Linked DNA regions of Homo sapiens. The protein of the gene in region 1 purifies or fractionates together with the protein of each later gene. This does not show direct contact. Each region holds a gene or a part of one and is shown on either strand. Other genes may lie near its edges.

What was found. Proteins that work in one complex are often made in the same cells at the same time.
Region 2: the proteins of USP22 (region 1) and SGF29 purify together in Homo sapiens (affinity purification with mass spectrometry; 6 studies listed by BioGRID and IntAct, with this or other methods). This does not show direct contact.

The regions. Positions count from the first base shown.
Region 1 is NC_000017.11:21,015,330-21,019,077, forward strand, and holds part of USP22 (ubiquitin carboxyl-terminal hydrolase 22), read right to left. Parts: intron 2,783-3,748; coding exon 2,613-2,782; intron 571-2,612; coding exon 423-570; intron 1-422. UniProt on the Homo sapiens protein: Deubiquitinase that plays a role in several cellular processes including transcriptional regulation, cell cycle progression or innate immunity.
Region 2 is NC_000016.10:28,556,804-28,560,551, reverse strand, and holds part of SGF29 (SAGA-associated factor 29), read right to left. Parts: intron 1-3,748. UniProt on the Homo sapiens protein: Chromatin reader component of some histone acetyltransferase (HAT) SAGA-type complexes like the TFTC-HAT, ATAC or STAGA complexes.

The DNA.
Region 1 (3,748 bases):
GTCCTTTTGGAGAGTCCCCAATGGGAAGGAGACAGTTGGGTGATTAAGTTGTGTTTGGGGGATGTCCAGAAGCCTCAGGCCTGATAACCCACAGGGTCCCAGAAATGCCAGGGCAGGCAGGGGCCTCAAAGCACAGGCCCAAGAGGGCTCCAAGAGTTTGCTGTTCACTGTGATCGGTCACTGAGGACCTGTCATACTGCTGGAACTACTTCCTCGCCTCTTAAAAATAAACTAGGAGGAGCCTCTCTGAGGTCATTAGTTATGGTGACTTCAGAAACAAATGACGACAAGGGCTATGATGACAAAACAATGGAATGTGTCACCTGTGCCCCTTTTTGCACGAGTGCATACACTCGCTTTGCTTCCTTCCCCTTCAAGGAAAACATCCTGCCCTGGTGGAGGGTGCAGAGCCCAGGGCCCACCTTTGCAGTGTCGGTGGAGCACGTCCAGGGCCGCGATGAGGAACTCGTGGGCGTCCTGCTGCTCGTAGCCTGCTAGGTGCCTCGCGTGGGTCCACACCAGGTGCAGCAACTTATACGGGATGTGAGGGGACCGGTGTCCAGAGTAAAACTGCCAGAGGGCGGGGAAGGAAACCTTGTCAGGAATAAATGTAGACTCTGAACACAGAGTACACACAATCAAAACCTTTATCAGATGCCTACCATTGGCTGTGGCTCATTTGACACAAATGTTTGGATTTTACTTTTCTACTTTTTGCAAAGTCTATTTTTATCTGGGCTCACTGGACTTTTCGAGTCCTCATATGAATTTTTTCCTTTCTACCATCTAGTTTTCCACATATAAGCCTAAAAAATGAATTATGACTTGCTACTATGAGATCACATGCAAATAAAAGTGACTCGATTTGCCCAATACTAGTTTCCTCAAAGCACTAGCCAAACCACTCAGGCCCATGGACACCAGCACCTCCGCAAAGGGAAGCACATCACTGTGATTATGCAGAATTCACCAGCATCAGCCACAGGATTCTCTGCCTCTGAGGCTAATGGCAATTAGCTGAGGGCTTGCCAGCCAGTCCTCTCCAACAGCTCAACTCCAGCCGCAGACCCAGCAGCACACCTTCCATCCCACGGCTTCCTCCCCAGGTCAGAACCCACAGAGGGGTCTTGCCTGTGCAAATACAGAATTCAGGGCAGTTTTATTTCTCATCAAAAAACCCAAAACCACAGACCACCCAAATGTGTCTGAACTGGGAAACAGACAACTAAACCATAACCCATCTACATAATGGAACCCAACTCAGACATCGAAAGCACACATCATGGATGCACGCAAGACACGGGTGAATCCACCCAGTATTACATTAAGTAGGGACAGCCAGATTCAGAAAGGCTACTTCCTGCATGCATCCATCCGTATGATGCGCTGGTAAAGGACACTCAAGGGACCGAAGACAGATCGGCAGCTACCAGGGTCTGGGGACTGGGGGTTGACTTCGGAGGGGCACGAGGGAGTTCGGAGAGGTAACAGTTCTTCATCTTGAGTAGCAGCAGTTACACAACTATGCATTCGTCGAAACTCATCTATCTATAGGCTAGAAGGTGGGTGTGACTGTAATTTACACCTTAACAAGCCGGAGTCTAAAAACAATCTAACACAAGTGAGCTTATCACTAAAGTCAGTGATACAACCACCCACCAACTTCCCAGCTGCACCCTCCTTTCTCCTATTTGGGCCGTGTCCCCAGCAGTTATGGCACATTGCAGGTACTTTGAGGAAATCGGTTAGGCTCGACCAGAGGCTGGCAATCTGTTTTTGAAAGGCTTGGACAGTAAATAATTTCAGCTTTGCAGGTTGGATAGCCTCTGTCCAACTGCTCAACTCTGTGGCTGTCCCACAAAAGCGACCAGTGACCAGACAGACATGAGTGAGCTGGCGTGGCTGCATCTCTCGCAGAGGTTACGAATGGGAACAGGCCAGGGCTGTTGGCTGGCTCCTGTGCAAGGCACCTGAAGAACAGGCACCAGCCTGCTTATTAGTTGAGGTAACTGAGCTGCTTCAGCTCTGAGAAGCATGTCTAGGTCACGGAGCCGGTGAGGGCTGAGGCGGCAGCCGTGAACGCCTTGCTCTGAACGCTGCCATGCTCTGATGCCGGGGACAGAAGTGGACAGGAACGCCACACGTGCAGCCCACAGGAACAGCCAACGTGCAGCGCGTAGCTCATGAGGACAGAGGCTCTGATGGGGCATGCTTAGAGAGACCTGGCGGTGGAGGAGACTCGCATACCAGGAGGACACAGGAGGGTGACACATGCGTGCCTTTCTGAGCCAGGAAGGTAGACCATGGAGGAAGAGGAAGGGGGAGAATCACCCGTCTTTAGAGACAAATGTCACCCACCAGGGAAGTCTCTGCCACAAGCCTCTCAAAGGGCTTCTCCTTGTTCTGAGTCAGCAGTGCGTCCCCAAAAATCACGCCAGGTCTTCCCTTTTTGGAAAACTGTGTTTTCCATAATAGACATGTATATTAAACATTAACTTACTACAAAAGGTTCTAAATGTATCTTCCTTTATCATGGTCCACCTTAAATTTTTTTTTTGAAGGTGAAAACAAAGTAACAGAAATGTTCCCCTGCAGAAGTCAATGGCGCTCACCTCCTGAAACAGTGAGGACATCTCACAGACCAGACAGGAGCTGGGGCTCTGCATCTCACAGCGGTGCCTGTCAGACAGGAAGAAGTCCCGCAGAAGTGGCGTGTGGGTCAGGGCCTGCACGATGCAGTTCATGAAGCATGTGTTCCCAAGGTTGATCAGCCCACGCAGACCTGGACACAAATCACCAGAGAGCAGGAGTTACCTGTGTGCTGAACCACAGGTGTCGCTGGATCCCAGCGGCTTCCTCTACCTCTACATACTCATTTTCTTTTATTCATTCATTCAAGCCAGAACACGATGAGATATCGCATTCTGCTAGTTTTTATGCCACTTTTACATGAACGGTATTGAAGAATGTCCACCACCATGGACCCCTCCCACTTCAGCCATTGTATGCTTTGACAGAATTACACAAATATAGTTTCTACGACAACAGGCCAGGTCAGAGTGAAGCCTAATGAACAAACAAAACAGGTTTTTAAAAATGTTCTAGGGCCAGGGCAGGGGCTCATACTTGTAACCCAGCACTCTGGGAAGCCAAGGCATGAGGATCACTGGAGCCCAGGAGTTCGAGACCAGCCTGGGCAACATGGTGAGATGTCTCTACGCAAAACACAAAAATTATCCAAACATGGTGGTGTGCACCTGCAATCCCAGCTACTTGGGAGGCTGAGGTGGAAGGATCGCTTGGGCCCAGGAGACAGAGGGTGCAGTGAACTGTGCTCCAGCCTGGGCAACAGAGCAAGACTCTGTCTCAAAAAAGAAAAAGAAAAAGTTTTAAAGGGTATTCCCTCAATTTGTAGAAAATTCAGCGAACACTTACACTCACACACATCATTTCTCTCCCTGAAGATTACTGTGCCCAGCCTCACCCTGGCCAAAATCAACTTGAGTCCCTTTACCCACACAGACGCTGAAGGCTGTGAGGGCAGGGCTGTTGCTACGCATCACTCTGCGCCCCAAGCCCACTGCAGGTCCCTGCAGAGAACAGGTGCTCAAGAGCTGGTTGCTGAGCACATTGATGAGTGACAGTTATGCAGGGCTTCAACAGAATCATGTGGACTTAAGAAACCCACAATTCTGTATTTACTTTTAAACCCTGGAAAGAAGCCTAGCTGAGAGTGACGACACGCTCC
Region 2 (3,748 bases), on another chromosome or scaffold:
AATGGTGTAACCTCGGCTCACTGCAACCTCTTCCTCCCAGGTTGAAGCAATTCTCCTGCCTCAGCTTCCTGAGTAGCTGGGATTACAGGTGTGCGCCACCACGTCCAGCTAATTTTAGTATTTTTAGTAGAGATGGGGTTTCACCATGTTGGTCAGGCTGGTCTCGAACTCCTGACCTCGTGATCCACCCACCTCAGCCTCCCAAAGTGCTGGGATTACAGGCGTGAGCCACTGTGCCGGGCCCATTCATTGCCTTTTTTTGTGAACACAGATCATATTTTCCTGTTTTGTAAAAATATATTTTAAAATTTTCGTGGTTTTTTTTTTTGAGTCAGAGTCTTGCTCTGTTGCCCAGGCTGGAGTGGTGGCACGATCTCAGCTCAACCTCCACTTCCTGGGTTCAAACAATTCTTGTGCCTTAGCCTCCTGAGCCTCCTGTGTACCACCACGCCTAGCTAATTTTTTTGTACTTTTAGTAGAGAAGGGGTTCTGCTATGTTGGCCAGGCTGGTCTCAAACTCCTGTCCTCAAGTGATCTGCCTGCCTCAGCCTCCCAAAGTGCTGTGCTGGGTTTACAGGCATAAGACACCATGCCCAGGCCATTTCTTGTGTCTAAGAATTTTGGATTATATCCTGGACATTGTAGATGATGTGTTGTAGACTCTGGATTCTGTTATGTTCTTGAGAGTTTGGTGTTTTGTTTCTGTTAACATGCAGTTAATCACAGCTGAACTCAAACTCCAAATCTAGCTTCCCTGAGGCAAGCATCAGCTGAAATCTGTACTGATCTTTTAAACTTGGCTAAGTTGCTTGGAATATGCCCCATGTTTGTCTAGTTCAGAGGTTTAGGCAGACTTTTTAAAATAACAGCTTAATGGGCCGGGTGCGGTGGCTCACACCTGTAATCCCAGCACTTTTGGAGGCCAAGGTGGGCAGATCACTTGAGGCCAGGAATTCGAGACCAGCCTGGCCAACACTGTCTCTACTAAAAAAGTACAAAGATTAGCTGGGTGTGGTGGCACACACCTGTAATCCCAGCTACTTGAGAAGCTGAGGCACAAGAATCGCTTGAATCCGGGAGGCGGAGGTTAAAGTGAGCCAAAATCGCACCACTGCACTCCAGTCTGGGTGACAGAGTGAGATTCCGTCTCAAAACAACAACAACAACAAAAACAGCTTAATGAAGATAATTCGCATGCCATACAATTCTCTATCTCTCTATCTACTTATTTGAGACAGGGTCTCACTCTCATTGCCCAGGCTGGAGTGAAGTGGTGTAATTACAGCTCACTGCAGCCTTGACTTCTTTGGCTCAGTCAATCCTCCTGCCCCAGCCTCCCAAGTGGCTGGGACTACAGGTGTGCACCACCACGCCCAGCTAATTTTATAATTTTCTGTTGAGATGAGGTCTCATCATATTGCTCAGGCTGGTCTCAAACTACTGGGCTCAAGCAATCTTCCTGCTTCAGCCTCCCAAAATGTGCTGGGATTAAAAATGTGAGCCACCGCACCCACCCCAATTCACTTTTTTAAAGTGTGCAATTCAGTGTTATGTTAGTCACAAGGTTGTGCAAATATCACCACTATCTAATTTTAGAACATTTTCACCAACTCTCCTTAAAACCTTATACTCATTAGCAGTCATTCCCCACCCCCTTCTCCTCTCAGTCACTGGCAGCCATTATTCTAATTCATATTTGTAGATTTGCCTATTCTAGACATTTCATATAAATAGAATTGTACTGTGACCTTATGTGACTTGCTTCTTTCACTTAGCATGTTTCCAAAGGTCATCAATGTCACAGCATGTATCAGTAACTTCATTCCTTTTTATGGTTAAATAACATTCCATTCTATGGATAGATGTCGTTTTTAATCCACTCATCTGTTGAAGAATTTGTGAAGAATTTGGAATCCCTTCTCTGGGGCTATCTTCTTTCCATCATGGGCTTTTTAATGCCTCATGACAAGGCATTTAACAAAACCAATAAACAGGCGGGTCGCAGTGGCTCATGCCTGTAATCCCAACACCTTGGGAGGCCAAGTACAGAGGATTGCTTGAGCCCAGGAGTTTGAGACCAGACTTGTCAACATAGCGAGGCTCTATCTCTACCAAAAATAAAAAGTACCCAGGTGTGCAGCCAGGCGTGGTGGCTCACACCTGTAATCCCAGCACTTTGGAAGGCCAAGGCGGGTGGATCATGAGGTCAAGAGGTCAAGACCAGCCTGGCCAACATGGTGAAACCCCATCTCTACTAAAAATACAAAAAAAAAAAAAAATTAGCTGGGCATGGTGGTGCATGCCTGTAGTCCCAGCTACTTGGGAGGCTGAGGCAGGAGAATCACTTGAACCCGGGAGGTGGAGGTCGCAGTGAGTCGAGACTGCACCACTGCACTCCAGCCTGGCGACACAGCGAGACTCCGTTTCAAAAAAAAAAAAAAGTACCCAGGTGTGGTGGTGGACTCCTGTAGTCCCAGCTTTCAGGAGGCTGAGGCAGGAGGATCTCTTGAGGCCTGGAGTTCAAGACCAGCCTGGGAAACACAGCAAGACCCCGTCTCTGAAAAAAAAAAAAAAAAAAAAAAAAAACAGAGAAAGAAAAACAGAAAATACTGGTGACATAATTTAGGCTTCTGGATAGAGTCCCATCTGAAACTGATTTACTCCAGGACTCTTCAGCTACAGTCTGTGAGGAAAAAACAAAACTTTCTCCTCTGCTGTCACAATATAGGATAATCAACACATAAGATTTCCGTGGCCAAATGTGTGGAGATTTCTCCCCAACACCAATCAATCCATTGAGTCTGCAGTGGATACACGCTGGATGTCCTCTAATTCAGTTTATTTCCAACACTATCCACCCAGACAGAGTGTCAAACCCCACAGGTTGAGGGCTCAGTCCCACGAGCATGTCCCCCCAATTCTCAATGCCAGTCACAAGCCCCCAGTTGCTTTATTTGTGCTTCTGACCAACTGACTATAAATCAGGGTTTCCATGACTCCCTCCTTGGGTTCCATTAATTTGCAGGAGCAGCTCTCAGCACTCAGGGAAACACTTAGGTTTACTGGCTTATTATAAAGGATGTCACAATGGATACAGATGAAGGAAGAGGTGCACAGGGCAAAGCATGTGGGAAGGAGCGAAGAGCTTCCATACCCACCCTGGGCACGCCACCCTCCAGGAAGCTCCAAACTGGGATACAAACCAGATATATATTTTACAATATCACAGAGTCAACAAACACCCCTTTCAGCTTAGGCTAGTCAGAGTAGCTTTTTGTTATCTGCAACTGAGTAGCTTGACTAATAAGAACTTTCATTAAGCACGGTCTGAAGAGATAGCCAATTCTGAGGGACAAAGGCTGCAGGGTAGAAGCATATGTTAACCACTAATACCCAGCCTAAAATTGCTGGCCCTTTTACTATAATAGCATAAAAGGCCTCAAATAAACAAATCCAAATATCCTACACTTAAGCCACTCTAAGATTAATCCCACAGGGCTTAAAACAGTAAGAGCTTTGTTCTGGGTCAAAGGGAAAGAGGAACCTAATACCCCACACTCACATCCCACACTCTCAACCCAGTCACTAGCAATGAGAATCTGCAAACTGGGTGCAGTGGCTCATGACCGTAATCCCAGCATTTTGGGAGGCCGAAATGGGAGGATCACTTGAAGTCAGGAGTTCAGGACCATCCTGGGCAACACACGGAGGCCCTGTCTCTACAAAAACAAAATAAAATAATTAGCTG